Homo sapiens: one gene and its partners. The protein of the gene in region 2 interacts with the protein of the main gene of each other region in a pairwise test. Each region holds a gene or a part of one and is shown on either strand. Other genes may lie near its edges.

The links. Proteins that work in one complex are often made in the same cells at the same time.
Region 1: the proteins of PLP1 (region 2) and NRG1 interact in binary tests that used the Homo sapiens proteins (3 or more experiments, as listed by UniProt).
Region 3: the proteins of PLP1 (region 2) and SLC18A1 interact in binary tests that used the Homo sapiens proteins (3 or more experiments, as listed by UniProt).
Region 4: the proteins of PLP1 (region 2) and ADGRG3 interact in binary tests that used the Homo sapiens proteins (3 or more experiments, as listed by UniProt).

The regions. Positions count from the first base shown.
Region 1 is NC_000008.11:32,550,242-32,555,249, reverse strand, and holds part of NRG1 (pro-neuregulin-1, membrane-bound isoform isoform HRG-alpha proprotein), read right to left. Parts: intron 1-5,008. UniProt on the Homo sapiens protein: Direct ligand for ERBB3 and ERBB4 tyrosine kinase receptors. Concomitantly recruits ERBB1 and ERBB2 coreceptors, resulting in ligand-stimulated tyrosine phosphorylation and activation of the ERBB receptors.
Region 2 is NC_000023.11:103,778,753-103,784,483, reverse strand, and holds part of PLP1 (myelin proteolipid protein), read right to left. Parts: intron 1-5,731.
Region 3 is NC_000008.11:20,148,198-20,153,205, forward strand, and holds part of SLC18A1 (chromaffin granule amine transporter), read right to left. Parts: intron 2,548-5,008; coding exon 2,469-2,547; intron 1,531-2,468; coding exon 1,479-1,530; intron 1-1,478.
Region 4 is NC_000016.10:57,684,237-57,688,030, reverse strand, and holds part of ADGRG3 (adhesion G protein-coupled receptor G3 isoform 1 precursor), read right to left. Parts: intron 3,642-3,794; coding exon 3,548-3,641; intron 2,389-3,547; coding exon 2,105-2,388; intron 1-2,104. UniProt on the Homo sapiens protein: Adhesion G-protein coupled receptor (aGPCR) for glucocorticoid hormones such as cortisol, cortisone and 11-deoxycortisol.

The sequences.
Region 1 (5,008 bases), on a different chromosome or scaffold from region 2:
CTCTTTGTGGGTACCATGTGCACTTCAGTGGGAGGGAGCTGTTGTAAGGCGTGATTGGAAGGTATTTAAAGATGCTTGATTCTCTTGGGGGAAATTCCTAGAGGGAATTAATCTGACAGATGTCCCCTTGCAAGCTAACCACTGCATCAACATCATCAGAATAATGTTTTAAAATATTCTAATTTAGAATACTTAATGAATTAGGGCTATGTGGTCCAGCTGGAAAACAAACTCCAGTTGAGGCAGCTAACATGTATGGAATCGGGACTCTGTTCTTCCAGTAGATTGCCCAGAATACTGCAGTAACTTAAAAAAAAAAAGAGAGAGAGAGAGAAGAAAAAAGCAGTCTTTGGGGAATAGCAGTGTGATGCTCCTGGAGCACCCTCTGGAGGCCAGAAAAAGGTGACATGGGGCATAGGAAGAATGAAGAGAATTCTGATCATCTCTGCTCTTATGTAGAGGCAGAACTCCACAGATCTCACTTGACTTGGACTGAAAAATGCACTTTATCAGTCATAATCAGGGCAACATAAGAAAGTGCATATCTAATTTCTAGTTTAAAAATGCAAAAGAAATCTAATGTGTTAACGACATTCTCAAATAATTTTGTTTCCTAATTTTAAAAAATTAACATATTTTCTGCCTACATTCTGAATTCTTTTGGGAATTTACTGCAGAGGCTTTTTTAAAAAAATTTAGAAGAAAGATGAGAACATGGAATATTTTCCTTAATAAAATGTACTTTTGTAAACAGGGTTATATACAGTGAATTATTAGTCAATTGTTGAAAAGTAGCCAGCTTTATGTTTAGTAAAACCAAAAATAAATAAAGCTGTCCATTTCTTCTTTTTTTCTAACACCTCACTTTTTCTAAAGCGACAAACACTGACATCTATTGGTATTTTGGTAGCTCGCTTTTTTTTTTAACCCATTAAAACATACACAAGGACACACACAAGTGCAGACATGCACAAAATTAGGAGAAATCCAAAATATCATTAGTTCCTTCAAGAAAACTTCATTGTATGTACCTTAGTGGCATATTTTTTATCTGGGTAAAAGAAATCCGTTTTCAAGCTAATACTATCTGATTTATTTTTTTGTTTTTTCTATTTGTCAAGAGGGGGAGCTCCAGGGTTAACTAAACTACCAGAAGTTCATTCATTTGCGTCTTTGAGCAAATAAAGTGACTCACCCAAAATACTGGCATTTGGTTTGTTTTCATCTATCCTAACAGAACATGATAAACTATCAGTACTGTTCAAATCCAATTTAACTTGTTACTTGGAGAATGCTAACAGAACATTGATTTGGTAAGAATCTATCACACTTCCAGAACTTTAAACACTACCTATAGCCATTCTAGGAAGGCTGAGGAGGAAATAAAAAACTAGAAATGTGAATTTAATATATTCCTTATTTTGTTTATATTTAGAAACACCTGCACTCAATTCTATGAACATTGCTGGCAATATACTGTTATGCTTGATAAAAAGATAGTGAGGGGCAGGTTGGTGCACACTTTTGTTTTTCAATTGCTGCAATTTATACGAGTCCCAAAAGAGAAGATTATGTATTCTATACAATAAAGTGAGGTTTAAGCATCAACTCTTAAGTGTTGCCAGAAAAAAGAGTCATGTTTCAAAATCTTCTCATAGCTTGAAACCTCAACATTTTTCTGCCAGAGATAAAATTATGTTGCACCTCACTCTACTTTCAATATTTAGATTGAGTTCAGTACTGTTTTCATAATGTATATATGCAGTTATGGAATTTGACACTCTTATCCACTTTTCTCTAGTTTTACAGGTAGTACATATTAATATTTATAACCACTGTAATCTGAGGTCAGCTTTGGATATTTTTTACCATAAAAGGTAAATTTTGGAAATTATATCAAATATCTTTGCAAAGACACAGATAATTCATTTCTTAAGTAGTTTTATAAAGACAGCTAATATTACTGGGCACTTATTACATGTTGGTTGATGTTCAGAGTGCTTTTCATGGATTATTTCCTTTAAGCTTCATGAAACCCTCATGATAATAATAATAGTATTATTATCCCCATATTGCAGAAAAAGGAAATTTAGGCACAGAAAGATTAAGTAACTTTCCCATGACTACATATTTAAGGAACAGCCTAATTAGGATTTAAACCCAGGCAATCTGGCTGAAGAGCTAAGGACTAGGCCATCTGGCATCTTGCTGCCTAATAGCAAGGAATTTTCTTATTTTCGAAAGGACGGATGACAAAATACACAATATACATCTGTTTTACTGCCTGGAACATGGTAAGAATTCAATAAATAGCAGGTCCCTCATTAATAAACATAAAAGTGTCCAGCACAGTGCCTGGCATGTAGTAGGTATTCAGTGTTCATGTTTGTCTAATATTTTTTGGTTCTCTATATATATTTTTTCTCCTCTTTTTCATTAGTGTTATCTGACCATTTCATGGGTATGAGAAGTATTCATGTCTGAATATACAACTTTCTTCCGCTCTTCCTGCTATTTTAATTCTGCAAAATAAGTCCTATTTCATTCTGTGAATAATCTTTAATGTTTTTAATAATTACATAGGCTAGGTGGTTACAAGTAACCAGGTTGAAACAGATCACTGGACATTCCTCTTGTTCTGTAAACACAGGCTGCCCCGTTAGGGTCAGGGTACTTTATACGCAAGAATGTTTACAAGCACTTCAGCCTGCAGAGCCACTTAGTGAGGGAAACAGGTGGGTGATGTCATTGGGGAAACACACAGCCTGCTTCTACCTATTTGGGATACTAGGTTTCTCAATGTTTCCATCACCCAGACTCACAAATGCCCCTCCTACCAGGAGTGAAGGGAGACAGGATAGTTCTAGAATCTGGCTAGGCATGATAGTGAATTTTTCCCAGGTTATTTAAGAGGAAAAAGAAAAAAGACAGAATTCCGTGCAGAGGTGCAGAGTAAGAACAACATATCGACAGAGAATCACAAAGGAAGCTTAGAGTCAAATACCAATTGGCCAAAAATTAAAAAAAAAAAAAAAAAAAGCGGCCAAGCGCCGTGGCTCATGCCCGTAATCCCAGCACTTTGGGAGGCCGAGGCATGTGGATTGCGAGGTCAAGAGATCGACACCATCCTGGCCAACATGGTGAAACCCTGTCTCTACTAAAAATACAAAAATTAGCTGGGCATGGTGGCGCACACCTGTAGTCCCAGCTACTCAAAAGTCTGAGGCAGGGGAATCACTTGAACCCAGGAGGCAGAGGTTGCAGTGAGCCGAGATTGCACCCACTGCACTCCAGCCTGGCGACAGAGCGAGACTCCGTCAAAAAAAAAAAAAAAAAAAAGCTCTGGTTTTGTAATTCAGGCTTCAAGAGAAAAAGTCTGTTGAGCTGAATCAGTATGAAGAGGCTGGATATGGGAGGTCCAGCACCAAGGAGACCCAGGCTGTTACAGGGCTCTTGGTACGTGGATCAGTGATACAGCACCCAAGACTATTCTTAGCTTGCTTATTTTGAGCAAAGAAAAGGAATCAATGACTCCAAGGGCTTGGGACCTATTAGAGCTATTATTATGGAATAGATAATTGTGTTGAACATCTGCAGCCCCAATAGTGTGCAATTCAACATTTAGTTAATTGTATAAAAGTGCAGATGCTCTGAAATAGCCATGTATGTATCGCATATCAGTCACTCATGCCATATGAAAGTTAAAGAAGCCTTTTCCCCCTGAAAATTTCCCTCCAACAGATGTGTTTATGCCTATGCGTACAATATAGCACACAGCGGGGCTGAGTGGCTGAGATCCCACCCCATTATCTCTCCCCTGACTGTCATGAGGCAATGTTAAAACAGCTGAAGAGAGGCTTGGCTATTGCATACATATCATCAAGGACAGACAGTTGCAGTGGCTGTTTTAAGAAAGGAGTGAAACTTGGAACTGACAGGCACTAAGATGGGAGCAATACAAGAGAAACTTGTCCTCCTAAGTCCTAATTTGGGCTGGCACGGCAAGTGTGAATACTAGAGTTATGGCATCTATAGGTCGTTCCTTTGGGAATGCCTGAAACCTAGAGTGTGGGTTTTTCTCACAAACCATTATAGTCATCAGGTATGAATTCTCCTAAGACAAGGAAAACTACACTGGCACTTACCATTATAAGGAAAATGACAAAGAAGGAAAGAAACACTGATTCTGAAGCATTGTATTTAATGCCATGTGCTTCTATATAAAGCTGGTTTCAAGTTGTTGACCATTCTTTCTGAATCAAATAAAGAATACATATTCTTATCTGGTTTAAAAAGCACAAGATGCTTCGAAGGGGGTAAAAAGTCCCTCCCCAAAAAAGATTATAATCTGGTGGAAAACAGAGACAAATATACTAAAAACTAACCTACAGCCAAATTCACCCCAATTTTTCAGGGAAGACAGTTAAGCAAATGTCACTTAAAGATACTGACTTAGCTGGTTTACAGGGAATCACTGCTGTACCACTGGAAAGCAGATGAGAGCCACCAAGGAAGCTCTGGTGCTCTGTGTCAAGAGAGCGTAGCTAATCACAAGACAGCTGCCTACCTAGTAGATGAGATCTGGAGGGCACAGAAATGCCTGCCCCTCCCCCACTGAACTTGTCAAGTTGCTGTGTTACGGTACTGCTGCTGGGAGCCCTTGACAAAATGCACACCTATTACCTGAACAGGATGCTACTTCAGACCGCTGGCCCCTTCTTAATTCATTAGACCATCTACAGAGGACCACAGAAACTTCTTCTGAAGCCAATGAGCAGGGAGACAGGAGAACACAACCACAAACAGTGATAAGAGCCCCCAAAATAACTCTTTACAACGATTTGAGCTAGGTCTGAAATCTCCGTAATGTACTATGATGACCTTAGAAAGGACAGTAGACAAAGTCACGCAGGGAGGTAACTAATCCAGCTCCCCAATTTCCTATCTTGTTGAATAAAGTGCTATGGTCTCTCCCCAAAATATAGGGTAAAAATAAGGGAAAATTCAA
Region 2 (5,731 bases):
GGAGGTTTGATATTACTCCCAATAATAAAAATGCAGGCTTAATGATTTTGGACACTTTGTATGGCAGTTTTGTCCTCCTATAATGCAGCTTGGCTAATGTCCCCACCCTCAGTTATACGCTGAGATTCTGTCAAAACAGCTACAAACAGACTTTATACAAAGTCAGCAAAGCATGAAACATCTTTCTGGCACTAGAGGAACACACCAGGGCCTGGGAACACATGTGTCTTAAAGTGCTAAGAGTCCCTGAGATCCCCAGACCTGGTATCCCAGGCCCTATGCCAGTGTTGCTGAGAAACAGGAGAGGCACACAAGAAGTCACAGGCTCTGAAAGCAGCTGTGTTCCAAGTACTAGTCCCATGCTCTAAGATGTCATATGGAGTGAACCTTAGCAAATGCCAAGTAGATGACTGACTAGATGAGGAAAAGAATGGCTTCCTCTGGCCTCTCGGCCAGATCCCTAAAATGTAGAAGAAATGAGAATGTTAAGCTCTTCAGAAAAAATGTCTTAATTCATATGTATGTATATATATAAATATATGTATATATACCCACTGATTTTATATATCTATAAACACAGTATACACATGCACACACACAAATACTCAGCAAATGTACTGGGAAGCTGCTATTTTTGAATAAGCAGGTTGTGACAGCTTGTACAATAAAAATAAATTGTATTAATTACTTAGGCTTGGATTTTTGTATTCAAGCATTTCTCCAAGCCACACTCACTTTTCTATAGGGTACCAGGGAAAGGGGACTCCTTTTCCTGATTCTGTTAACATTAGTTACAGTTTGTTTTTAGCCCAGAGAGCATGAATACCTAGTGATTTACATGGCTGAATTGCATCAGTGTGAACAGATTTGGAAAGATCAAATTATCTCTGTCATGGGAAAATCGAGGTAGAGGCATTTGCCTCTGTTCTCAGAGACACAAAAGGAGTGAGTCCTATTACCCACCATCCCCTGAAATGACAGCCCTTTCTTGGCCTTCAAAGAGTGTCACACCAAAGATGAGCCTCAGAAGCCCAAGCCAAACAAAGTAAGCAGCTAACATTTGGAGCAGAACTTCCTTTTCCAAGAACTAAAGCATTGCTGCCAGGAAACTTGGCCTCTATAAGAAGCAATCTGTAGCTGTGCTGCTGTGAGTGGAGGCTGAGTTTACTCAGCATGAACTTTGCAAACGTGCTTGGGAAGAGTGTCTTTTCAGAGCTGGCCCATGGGTGTGTCTGTGTGTGTGCACACGCACATGCATGCATGTGTACAAATGTGCACATACACACATGTATACCACAGAGAAAAACACAACAACTGAAATCGATTGTTGTTCTCAGAAAACATTCCAGAAATTGATCTTCCTCTTTCTCAACAGGTTAAGATACTAGATTCAGCCTATAAGTCAAGAAAAGGAGCTTAGAAGTAAACAGTACTGCCATTTTCCTTCTCTGCCTATCCAACTCCTCCCCACCCCCAAACTCTTAGACTTTTCTAGTAAAGAAAGTCTCTGAAGCCTGGGGATGGGGGGAGAAGAAGGTCAGTGACCCCACTGTTCCCTTTCTCCCCAGCACAGGGTCAGGGCTTGGACAGAGCCCTCCATAGCTCCCCCGGACAAAGAAGCCTTGTTCTTTCCTGAGATCTCAGGAGCCTGATTGGTATTCCACAGGGGCCTGCAGCCGGGGGGTGGGGAGGGGGTCAGACTCAGGGAACAATGGCAGGACTGTTTGTTTAGCCGAGGGTAAGAAGAGCCATCCACCCTAGCAAGTGACCATCTTGGGCCTACTCACTCATCCCAGCATTTTCATCTGGGAAGGGCTAAGTGCTTGTGCAGGTATGGTCAGGGATGGAGGAACTTGAACTCTTGCTAGCCAAAAGAGAACTCCACTTTAAGCGTTAGGTGATGCCACCTCTAGGGTTGCAAAGATGAGAGGGAAACATCCTCTTGAGTGTATCTGATCCCTCAATCATCATCCAAATAACCTGAGAGTGTCATGGATTGTGTTCTTACTGGGTGATAAATGGCTAAGCCTTAGGAGCAATTCTGAGTCACCAGATCATAGCCTTTCTTTTTACATCCATTTTTCCTCTATTTTCTTAGAACTTGAATAACTTAGCATCCCCTTTTCTGCTCCACTACAGCTCAAAGCAAGGGACAAGAAAGAAGTAGGCTTTAATGAGTTTCTAATGTAAAGTCTGAAATAAATGACTTTAGATAAATCTATCACTATTAAGCTATAAACAATTCAGTAATATCAGCATAAGCATCAGATGTTCATCTCTTCACAACCTAGATGAAATGTTTGCTTTGGGGGCATTTAAGTTCAGCAGAAGTGAAGAATCTCAGTCAGTCTGTCCAAGCAAGAATCAGATTTTAGATTCTAACTGAGAAAAACTCAGAGCCTGCAAGAAATTATTTTTTCATCAAAGTAGTTGACAATCAAAGCATTCTGAGAAAAGATCCATTGGGCTCCCTTTGATTTTTCACAGTCCAAGAAATGTCCCTTGGGTATGTGTGAACAATAGCCTAAAGCCAAAAGCTCTCCATTTCAGAACCCCTCCTGGTTGAAAGGGTGTGAGTTTGATTCAAGAAGGCTGGAAGAGATTCTAGGGGAGAAGTTCCTTGGCTCTCTCAAGAGACATTCTCACATTTCCAGTCTAAGTACAGACTGCGAGATGAGAGAGTTGGCATAAAAGAACCATATAGTAATAACATTTCTCAATGCAACTCAGTCAGATTAAGCCACCTGACTTTGATGAAAGGTCATAGAGAAAAATAATGACCCCCTCCAGTGTTTTTCTTTCATTTCTGTTTATGTGAATTCAGTACAAGAATTAAGCACACTAGCAGTGACATAGACATTAGGAGAAACAGAAGGGAATTAAAAGGCCAGTCCCTTTCTTTAGAAAACTTGAAATCCTGTTGGGGTGAACAAACATATGTCTGTGAATCAAAATCTAAAGCTACCTATAAGCAAGTGTTAAAATGGATATAACGAAGTTGTGTGGGCAAAATGTAAGCAAAGGGAAAAGATCATGTCATGGTTGGCTACATTTGTATACAAACTCCCAAAACAAGTCTAATCAATCTGTGATAGTTGATACTCCAACTTTAAGCCCTTCTCACCAGCGCTCTTCACAGCGGTCTGACAGAGATCAACAGAACCAATGTGACTTACACAGATCCAGGTTCATCAAGGGACTGTGTTGATCCTGATGCTGTCTCTTTAAGCAGGCACCAAGAGCTCCCAACCCTCCCTCCCTCCTTTCCCATGCCCTGGGCCCGCCTCAAGGACCAGCTCCATGATGGAAATTCAGTGTGAATCTGGGAACTCATCAAAGGAAGGAGAGGAAGGGCTTTCATCGAAAGGAATGGTAGAAAGAGACCAATTGTACCCTGCACAATTCCCAGCCTGTCCCTTGAATCCAGCTGACAAAGGGAGAGATAGAAGAACCCTATACAATAGAGCTAAACAACAGGCAGGCTCATTGAGTGAGAAACTGGCCCCACCTCCCTAGGTCTCGAATCTGCACTACAGTCTTACCCTCCTCCCAGAACCCACCCCTTAACCTTACCCCATGAACAGAGGCCTCCTTGATCAGGGCCTGCAGTAGTTGACAAGGCCGAAATGCTAGAGCAGCCGTGACTGGTACTAGGGATGGATGGGGATCAGTGGGTGGGTTCTAGGAGTAAAACAACAATTATCAAGAGGTGCCAGAGACAAACAAAGACTTTTGCTTCGGGCCTCGTCCTGGTCAGACAATGCCCTGCCTATAATCTTGTCTTTCCTACATATCCCTTTTGATATCAGCACTTATATACCACATTCAAGTGCTGGAAAACAGTCCCGAAGTCTCTGGGGCCTGGGAATCCAAGCCTGCTGGATAGTCAAATCATGTGGACAAGGTTAACTAAAAAGGAATCTCAGCCTCCTCTTTGGACACGATTTAGTATTACCACGGCAACAGCATCTGGACTATCTTGTTTCCTATACTCCCCACTCCTCTTCAGACGCGCACACACACACACACACACACACACACACAGAGAGAGACAGAATGAATGATGTACACATTCCAATTTATGTGCAAGCATTGGGAAGCTGAGGTAGGACTTTGATTGTTAAAACTTATCCTTGGCACATTGTCTCCACCTTGCCCACGAATGGGAAGATGAAAGGGAAGTAACTGGTACTAGAGACAATAGTAGCCATACCTTGTTCCTCAGGTCAGTCTCCCACCATTTCCTCCTCTCTCCTTGTTGCAGTGTGAAGCTGATTTGGGGAACCTTATTCTCTTCCTTGGGACTCTTTTCTAGAGCCCTGCCTGGCAGACAGCTCAGAGGCCAGTGCAGAGCTGAGAGATAGCCCTCAGGGCCATTTTGCCGTAGGCAAGAGGGATTAATCAATCAGTACTTGCTGAGCTTTTGATGTAAGTTTGGCACTGAGTAGGCTCTGAAAGCAGGAAAGGAAGGAAAAGCTGCTCCATTCACCTACCATGGCTGCTGTGACCCTTCCTGATCATGTCACTGTCCTCACTTGGTCTTCTTTAGACCTGAAGTGCTGTGGGCAGGGAAGGCATTTCTACTGTTGCTTTCTTTCAAGACAAAGACCTGTACCCAGGGGATGGCTTTCAAGGCTTCAGGACGATAGACAAAAGCAATGGGGGAAAGTGATGTTACTGGCTGGAGTTCTACCTTAATGGGTTTGGAGACTATATTTCCCCTCCCACCCACCTCCCAGGGTTGAGGTTGTTATTACTCAGATCGCTCTGAGAGAGCAGTTCCAGTTGTCAGCCTGTTAAGTAAACTTCTGGCTTTCCTAGCTCAGAGCCAAGCCCAAGGCCCCCTAAAGCAGGGTAGACCTTTCAAACTGCCTGGCTTTCCAAGAACTCCTCTGGCTCTGCACGGCCAAAGGGAGAAGTGAGGTAGAGAAGGCTGCACTTGATTATTTTAGTCAGTGTCTCCAGGAAGACTAGGTGAACATGCTGGCTGGGATCTGGTTTATTTTTGGCTCCTGGTATTCTTGGGGCATTCTTGCCATTTTGATGGGACTCAGTTAGTCTTCGGGCATTTTATAAAACTGGACCCCCGCTCTGCCGCCACACTTTTTGCCTGGGCTACACCCACTTACTGCAAGCCAGCCAAAACTACACTGCTTGGCAAACAGCCACTTTTGGATGGAGGCATCACAGTCTGGTTACCAGGGTAACAGCCACTGTTCTCAGACGACAACAGGCTTGCAGACAATGTTTTGCTGTTCAATAATGGCATTGTGTTTCAGAGCAGAGAATAATCAGCTACTGCTCTTTTGCTCCTTTCTGGTTCCATCATTATCCCAAAGACTCACTTGGAACATTCCCCTTCCAAATCAAGGCAAAAATTAATGAGCTATCATTTTCCCCATAAATCTTTTGTGCAGACACTACTGAATCAGTGTTCCTCCTTGCTTCCAATCCTAAGGGATTCTATATGGTTGAAGTAGTAAGTTCCCTGTTCCTGGAGGTGATTAAGCAGAGGCTGTACGAACATTTAATTGGTTGTTGTAAAAATGAATCCCGCATTGAAGGTTGGCTCAGACAACTTCTAAAGTTCCTTCCAATCCCGGATTCCATGATACAATGTGTTTACTGCAATTGTTGAACAGCAGTGCACTCCACATCAGAAGTAGTGGCAGTCCAGTACCTTGTTAGAGATGATCTATAATTCAAAGTACTTTAGATACTCTGTTATTGA
Region 3 (5,008 bases), on a different chromosome or scaffold from region 2:
ACTCTCAGACTTTCTCATGGAAAAGAATCTATACCTCCATTTTAAGGATATGAAAACTTGACCAGCGCTGTTGTGTTTATTTATTGCTCTATCCAGAGTTACAGATCTAATGAGTGGCAAGATCAAGTTTGGACCTCAGACTTGGCTCCATTATGCTCTAACGAGGGTCTTCCTCTGTTCCATGGATACTTTCTCCCCTTCCTCTACCCCTCTTCACCTAAACATACACTCCTGGTCTCATTCTTCATGGAATAAAGTTGCCTCTGTTTTCCATTATGGACATCACTGAAAGGTTTCATTTAGACTTCTAACTTGGTAGCTGTTGGAAAAAGAAGATAGAGAAGAGGCCCCAACAACCAGTTAGCTGTAAGCTAGAGGGGGCAGGTGGTGTGGCTTGGGTCCCCTGTCAGGAAGCTTGTGAGACTCATTCCCATTGCCCTCCCAATCCCCCAACAAAAACCCCTTCTTCCCTCTTTTTCAGGTTCCTTACCTCCCTCTCTGGGTACCTGCCATTCAAACCTGCTACCCCAGGACACTCACCCCTTAAGGGTTTAGCATACCGTTTAGATGCTGCTGGCTGATAACAATTTTTAGGGTTCATGCCTCAAGAAATGTTTATAAATTATCAATAGTATTGGCTGAGATTCACTATGGGCTCACCATGTGCCAGACACTGTGGTTTATTTGGATTACCTTGACAACCCTGTGGACACCATCAGAACCCTCTCTACATAGATGAGGATGCTGAGCACACGGAGATGAAGTAACCTGCTCAAAGTCACATGCATAGAAAGTGGCAAAACCTGCCATGGAACCCGGATCCCATGCTCCTGCTCAGGACCTCCAGCTGGTCTTGAGCACAGTTTACAGTGCCTTGTAGCCCTGTTCTTCTCTCCCTCAGGCCTAGGAGGTTTGTGTGTTTCTCATCCCCACTGGGGAGAGGAGGAAATGAAGGCTTTGAGAACTTGAGGGGGATTCTTGGAAATGGAAAAGTCCTTCTTTCTTTCTTCTTCTATCAAGCCTCTGGTGCCAGAGACTGGGACATAGATGATGGTTCCCTGGGGATTTATGAGGCTCTGTCAGGGTGGGATGAGTAAATGAAGTCATAAAACGCACCATTTTGCCATCCCCAGAAATGGATACCAACATGTATCACTTCATATGCCCACATGTACAGCCTCAGACCTCCGGCTCCAGCTGCCCTACAGCCCTCTTCCTCTCCTTTCCCACTTCCCCTCAAAGGAAAGCCACTGCAGCTGGTGGCCTCTTCCCCCGTGCTAAATTCCTGCCTATTCAGAAACAGTCTTTCTGACAGTCCTTGCCAAGCCATCTCTGCTCATCTTAAAGGAAATTAGTCTTTAAATGTCTGTGTCTTTCTCTCTCTCTCTCTCCCTCTCTCTCTCTCTCTCTCTCTCTCTCTGTCTGTCTGTCTCTCGCTCTCTCTCTCCTTCCCCTCCCCCAGGTCTTCTTATACTTACACAGAGCAAGCTGGTACCTACTACCAGCATCCCGATTAGGGAACACAGCCACCTGGAAGAAAAAAGCCATCATCAAACACCACTAGGGGAGAGCTCCCCTCCACCTGTACCCCATCACCGCCATGCTGACCTGTCCCACCAGCCCTAATCCCAGCAACCCCTTAGGACCTGAGGACAGCATCCCTACATGACCAGTTTGTACCCAAATGAGCTCTCTCCCTGCCCTTTCCTTGTCTCCCCTGGCTCCATCCCTTTTTCTATAGAAAGGCAGAGGAGGTGCCGTGGGACACACTCTTCCTTCCCTTACAGGAGGAATCAGCTGACTCAGGAGGCACTTGTTCCTTAGAAGTAGCCCTCAAACTTAACTCATGCTGTTGCCCAGCTCAGACTGCCTCCTACCTGTCCTATTTTATTTGGTCCTTGAGGTCTGTCTCAAAAAACACAGAAAGTACCAAACTTCTTTCCTTCTCTGATGTCCTATGGCAGTGCTTCTAAAATCTTGATGCTAAACTCCAAAGATAAAATTAAAGCTGTCCTTATTGTAGTGAAGGGACAGAATGGAGACTCATAGCTCTTGGCCCCCAACCCTTCCTCCTCAGTGGCCTCTGGGGTGCCTCTATAGAACTCCTTAGGATTCCACAGAACATAATTTGAAAACTACTTTCCCAAAGTACTGCATTTTTCATAGCTGTTCTCTGTTGTGGTTATTTTATCTCCTCAACTGGACAGCAAATGGATGGAAAGTAAGGGGTGCCCCTCATGTATCCACTGCCTCTTCTATAACAATCAGCTCAGAGCTCAGGACAATCCATTCTCCATACCACCCTCACCACTCACTCACTGCCCATCCTCCCAGTGGGAAGTTTTTATCGGTGTGTACTCATCCTAAACTTTCAACCGTATGGAAGCTGTTCATCATTCCAAGATCAGGAACGGGCGCTCTTCCATCTTACATTTCTACTGTTCGTCCCAGATCCCGAGGCTACATACCGACCCATCTTGTTGGCCAACACACCAAAGAGGTTGGTGCCAATGAGGTAGGACACACTGGCAGGCAAGAAAGCTAGACCTGTGGAAGGACACAGATCCTTACCTTAGGACATGTCCAATTTACTCTAAAATGCCTTGTCTCGTACAAGACACTGAAGTCCACCCCTGTAACCTTCCAAGATCCCCAAACCACTTTGTTTTATGATCTGGGGACCTTTGTGCAAACCCACAGTAGTTGCCATAGGACCCCCACACCTCTCCTTTCTTCAGGAGCAAGGCTTTGTTTAGCCTCAGTACTTTTCTTTTTGTTTTCTTTCTTTTTTTGAGACAGGGCCTCACTCTGTCACCCAGGCTGGAGTGCAGTGGTACAATCTCAGCCCACTGCAGCCTCGACCTCCTGGGATCAAGTGATCCTCCCAGCTCAGCCTCCCAAGTGGCTGGGATTACAGATGAACACCACCACACCTAGTTGTTTTTTTTTGTTTTTTTTTTGTTTGTTTGTTTGTTTGTTTGTTTTGTAGAGATGGAGTCTCGTCATGTTGCCCAGGCTGGTCATGAAATCCTGCCTGCCTTGGCCTCCCAAAGTGCTGGGATTACAGATGTGAGCCCCCACACCTGGCCTAGCCTCAGTACATTTAATGTGCTTCCAGCTCCCCACTTAGATTCCTAATGAATGGCCCTGATGAGCCGTTCTCATGTATAAAATACCCTTGATTATCAGCGTGAGAATGTGAGCTTCAGAGGTGGTGTGGTTGGGTGCCACATACCCATACATAATTCCTGGGAAGTGAATTCCTGCCTTGCTACTTACCAGCCCTTCTATTTCTCTGAGAGGGATCTTGGATTAATTACTAAACCTTTCTGAGCCTTGGTTTCCACATCTGGAAAAAGCAAAGCTATGATTATATCATACCGGGTTACAATGTGGAGCAAATTAGGTAATGCATGCAAAAGTATTTTGTAAATTGAAGTCCTGAACACATGGCTTTTTGTGACAGTAGAGGGAAGTGTTCAGGAAACATGGGCTTTGGAGCCACACAAAGCTCCAAATTTTGCATTCAAACCATGGCTTGATGACTTGTTAGCTCTGTGACTTTGGACAATTTACTTAACCTGTCTGAGTCTCTTCCATTCATTCATTCATTCATTCATTCATTTTAACAAACTTTGACCATGTGTCAGGTATTCTGGGGGCTGGGAATACAGCGGTGAATAAGACAAACAAAATTCTAGCCCTCAGCTAGCTTACACTCCAGGGGAGGGAGACATACAATGAACAAGTAAACAAATACACAAAAAAGATAATTTTGAAAAGTGTTGAGTTATGTGCATGAAATTTAATGTGGTGATATAGCAGAGCAACTCAGAAGGGCTATCTGGGATTTCAGGGTTGGGGAAGGCTTCTTTGGGGAAGTGACATTCAAACTGAGACCTTAATAACCAAAAGAGAGCACTTCAAGCAGAAAATAAAAAGCACCTAATGGAAATTAAGATGTCTTAAAGAAATCATTTAGTTTGCTCTAAGAATAGAAAGGATATCTGTGTGCCTGAAATATAAGAGGAAAGTGGAGGGTGAGAAAATGAAGGTCCTAGAAATGAATCTGGTTATTCCAAGGGCAATGGAAGCTTTGGAAGGAAATGACATAATTGGATTTATATTTTCTAAAATCCCCTAGAAGAATGGGTTCATGGGACAAGAGTGGAAGTCAGACTATTTGCAGAATCCAAGAGAAAAGTGATGGTGCCTCAGATTAGAAGTCATGGTGGAGAGAAGTGAACAAAATGGTAGGTTTTGGAGGTAAGTTGGTGACATTTTCTGTTTGATTGGGTAAAGACATAGCGGGAGTGAGGAGGGGAAGTGAGAAATCAGGGATAACCTAGGTTTTTGTCTTAATCGATTGGGTAGCTGGAGATAGGGAAGACTGGTTGAAGTGCAAGAGCATGGGGGGAACGTGAGAGGTTTGAAGTGACTGGTAGATATTCAAGCAGAGCTGTCAGGCAGTTAGATACTTAAAGCCATGCAAATGGATGGGATTGCCTATGAAAGAACAAATAAAGAATAGAGATCCAAGGACTGAGCCTTGGGGGACTCCTATCTTTAGACATTAGCAAAGAAGGCAGAGATAGCACAGGAGATGAGGAGTAGCCAATGAAGTAGGTGAGGGGAGATGGAATCGAGAAGAGGAGTCTGGCCTTTGATCAGGGCTGGGATGCTCCAACCATAATTAAAGAGAAGACTGGGAATGTGGGTTCAGATGCAGGATATTGGGTACACTTAGTGATGGAAACACGACAGTTCCATTCTCATTGCTTCCATTTTATCATAGCTTCTGTTTTCTCAATGAGTAGGAGGCAAAGTCAACCACTGAGAATGATGATGGTGAAGGGACGGGAGTGCATATGGGGCTAAAATGAAGAAATATAAAATAGTCATTTTGGAAAAGAAGAAGGAGGACATAACTAGGGGCTTAGAGAAAGATTGTTGGACAATGTGAAACCCACTTTAGGTTTGTGGCCATAAATATAAGGTGAGACCAACA
Region 4 (3,794 bases), on a different chromosome or scaffold from region 2:
CTCCAGCAAGAGGAAAAGGGAAAGTGTGGGGTGAAAGAAATTATAGTAAGTACAGAACATGACTTAGAAAAACTCTATGTTTCAAGGAAATCTGTAACTAAACCTCTATATGCAAGACAAATATTGAGAAGAGTTCAATGGGCAATTCAAGTATACCAAGGGCTCTGTTGTATTGGAGAGGAAGAGAGAAATACAGAATAACTCAGACCCAGTGGAAACTTAGTAGAGTGAAGTGTGCAGGCTTACATATTAAGGTAACCTCTGAAAGAATAACGATGTCAGCTATAGTTTCAAAGTTCATTTCTCCCCAACCATCAACCCCTGGGATTCTCCAGGCATGGACTCATGATTCTCCACCTGGAGACAGCCTCAGATGGCCTTACAGTCATAATTTCTATGATTATTAATATAGTTCCCACATATTGAAGACCTAGTAGTTCCCACATATGCATTGTCATTGTTCATTGTGAAATCTGGCAGGCCAGGCACAGTGGCTCACGCCTGTAATCCCAGCACTTTCGGAGGCTGAGGCAGGTAGATCATCTGAGGTCAGGAGTTTGAGACCAGCCTGACCAGTATGGTGAAACCCCATTTCTACTAAAAATTCAAAAATTAGCTGGGCATGGTGGCATGTGCCTGTAGTTCCAGCTACTCAGGAGGCTGAAACCAGAAGAATTACTTGAACCCAGGAGGTGGAGGTCGCAGTGAGCTGAGATCGTGCCACTGCACTCCAGCCTGGGTGACAGAGCAAGACTCCATCTCAATTAAAAAAAAAAAAAAGCTGGTGAGATAAGTACGGGATTATCCCAATTTCGCGATGAATGAGGACGGAAGGAGCTGAGTGACTTGCTGGGTCAGGGATGGGGCTAGGATTTGGACCCAGGGCTGCCTGGCCCTAGCCACTAAGCCACACATCTCTCATGGGGCGCTGGGAGCCAGTCCTGGTCTTGGGGGCTTATACCCGCTGCATCTAGGACGCCTGGGTTTCTAGTGACTTCCCTGAACAGGTTGAGTCTCGTCACTCCTGTCTTGGCTGTTTCTCTCACAGTCAGACTGTGATGCCTCTCTGGGCTGTGGATGTAAGGAGCAAAGAGAACACATATAAACCATAGCACATGGACTGCTCTTACCCCTTTGCTGGGATCTCAGAGGAAGGGCCCTGCGGGGGCCAGTAACAAATACAGCAAGCATTTCCTTCCTACCTCCATAGATCCCTGGAGATCCCATCCATGTCATGTGGACATCATATCACATGATTCTGCCCTTCTGGTCGCAGCTGATTGGACCAGAGATGGACGATGGACACCCAACTTGCAAGGTCAGGTAGGGTTACGGCAGCCATGTTGGGTAACAATTTGGGGCCATGGGTAGTAAAGGGTAAGTGGAGAGAGAATGAAGGAGTTTCCACAGACACTAGGTGAGAGACTCCATAGCTCCAGGAAAAAGATAGAGAACGTATCTGCTTTGGTTTGGGTGGCTTTTTCTGATTCTGGTAGCAGCTCCCATGAAGGCAGCTGATATGTCTGGGATGTTTGTTGCTTCCAAATCTCATGTCCAAATGTGATTCCCAATGTTGGAGGTGGGGCCTGAGGGGAGGAGATTGGATCCTTGGAGCGGATCCTCATGCATGGCTTAGCACTATCCCCTTGGTGATGAGTGAGTGCTCACTTGGAGTTCATGCGAGATCTCGCTGTTTAAAACGGCATGGTGCCTCCCCACTCCCTTGCTCCCACTCTCGCCATGTGATACGCTGGCTCCCCTTTATCTTCCACCATGATTGGAAGCTTCCTGAGGCCTCACCAGGAGCAGATACTGGTGTTGTGCTTTGTCTAAAGCCTGCAGAACCATGAGCCAATTAACCCCATTTTCTTTATAAATTACCCAGTCTCGAGTATTCCTTTGTATTCTAGTAACACAAACGGACTAATACAGCAGCCAAACTTTGCTGCCCTGGATCCTTGCTCTGAGTATTTGAAATCAACATCCTTGACTTCAGCTAGCCTGAACAGAGTCCTGTGTCTTGCAAACCACCCTCTTCCCCACCTCCCAATACCTCCTGGGACAGACAACACAGCCCATCACCTCCCTGGTGCAGGGGCCTCACCTTGCAAGGAGTTGAAAAGTGCAAAGATGTAGACGGTGGAGAGGCCCAACGGGGTGAAGATGGCCAACCCCCATGTCACACCCACCAGGCTCGAGAGGCCCAGCAGGGTGAGCACCTTCTTCCGGTTCTTCCCCCGCTCCTTGACCGCTGTAGCACGGGACAGGGTGAAGATCTTCCAGACCACCAGGGCCAGGACCACCATGCCAAAGAGGAAGGTGATGAGGAAGTAGCCGTGGACGGTGATATAGAGGGCGTACATGGTTGTCCCTTCACGGAACCAGCATCTGGAGGAGGGGGCAGCTGTGGTGGGACTGGGAGTGGTACCTCTGGCCAGCAAACCCAGGAAGTCCCCTGGCTGAGCTTTTCTGTCTGTGAAGGTGCCTCTCCCATTTCCACCCATCAATCCCTGGCTCTCCCGCTGTGGGAGGGGCCGTCACCTGGCTCCAGTCTGGTGTCTCTTTAATGCCAAAGTGACCTCAAAGACATGTTTCATTTGCCCCATATTACATTGTGAAAAAAACGGAATTAGTGGCCGCCTTTAAAATCAGAAGCTTTGGTATAAACACCTAGATTTCTGCTTCTCCTATAAAATCATACACCTGGCAGCTCTGTGGATGCCCTCCTGAAGGATAGTAACTGACCGCTAATTAGATGGGCTTGTGACTGCCAGTCCGCTGCAGTCCCCACCTGGCCCACTGCCTGCACCTTTGTGACCCCTCCAGCTCCTGGGGCCCCTGCTTTTGAGGCCTGGGGACAGGTCCAAGGCCTCACCAGCTCCTCTTAGCACAGAGCCATGGGCCCAGTGGTGGGTGCCCCATGGATCCCAAGGTGTGAGTCTAGAAACTGAACTCAGCTCCACTGCCCTCTGCACTGCAGGGGCAAAGGGCCTCAAAGAGCATGTTGATCAGTTCCCCCATGGTGCAGATGAGGAGACTGAGGCCCTGGGAGAGATCGGGCCTGCCAAGATCACACACATAGCAGGCAGGGCAGAGCCCAGACTAGACCCAGGGCTACTGTGAATCACTGGGCAGGTGGTGGCCTGAACAAGGACACCTGGCTGGGCAGCAGGTGGGGGCTGAAATCCAACACACCCTCCACTCTCCAGGCTGCGCACCCCGCATGCGGACGGGGTGACCTTCTTTACTTTGCCTCAAGGTGCCATGTGGGCTCGTGTTGGCCCAGGCTCAAGTAAGGCATCCTGCCTCCTGGTCCAGTTCTCCCTCTCCTTTCTCAGGCCCCCTCTCTCATTTCACTTCCCCTCTCTCTCTCTAGGCTTCAGTTTACTTCTCTGTGCCATGAGCTAGCTGGATCTGAGGATTCTTCTGGTCTTGACATATTTGGTCTAGATTTTCCTAGAAATCCCTCCTCTCCCCACCTCTCTCCAGCCCCAATATGTGTAGCCGGGGAGCTGGCATCACCCCTGCTCCCACAGCCGCCACTCACAGCTCCAGAGAGGTGCGGTTCTCCCTATCACGGATGGTGTAGAGGCCGTAGCTGTTGGCACTCCCAGTGCCGATGACCATCAGGGCGGGCAGGCCTGGGCACAAGGGGAAATGGCATGACACCACTGGGGCTTACTGGCACTTCCTCCTCCACGTCCCCTCCAGATGGCCATCCCTCCAGCTCTGGGAACCCCTCCTCTCTCTCCCCAAGGCTATTTCCCTCTGCACCCTCAGGGCCGGCCGTTTAT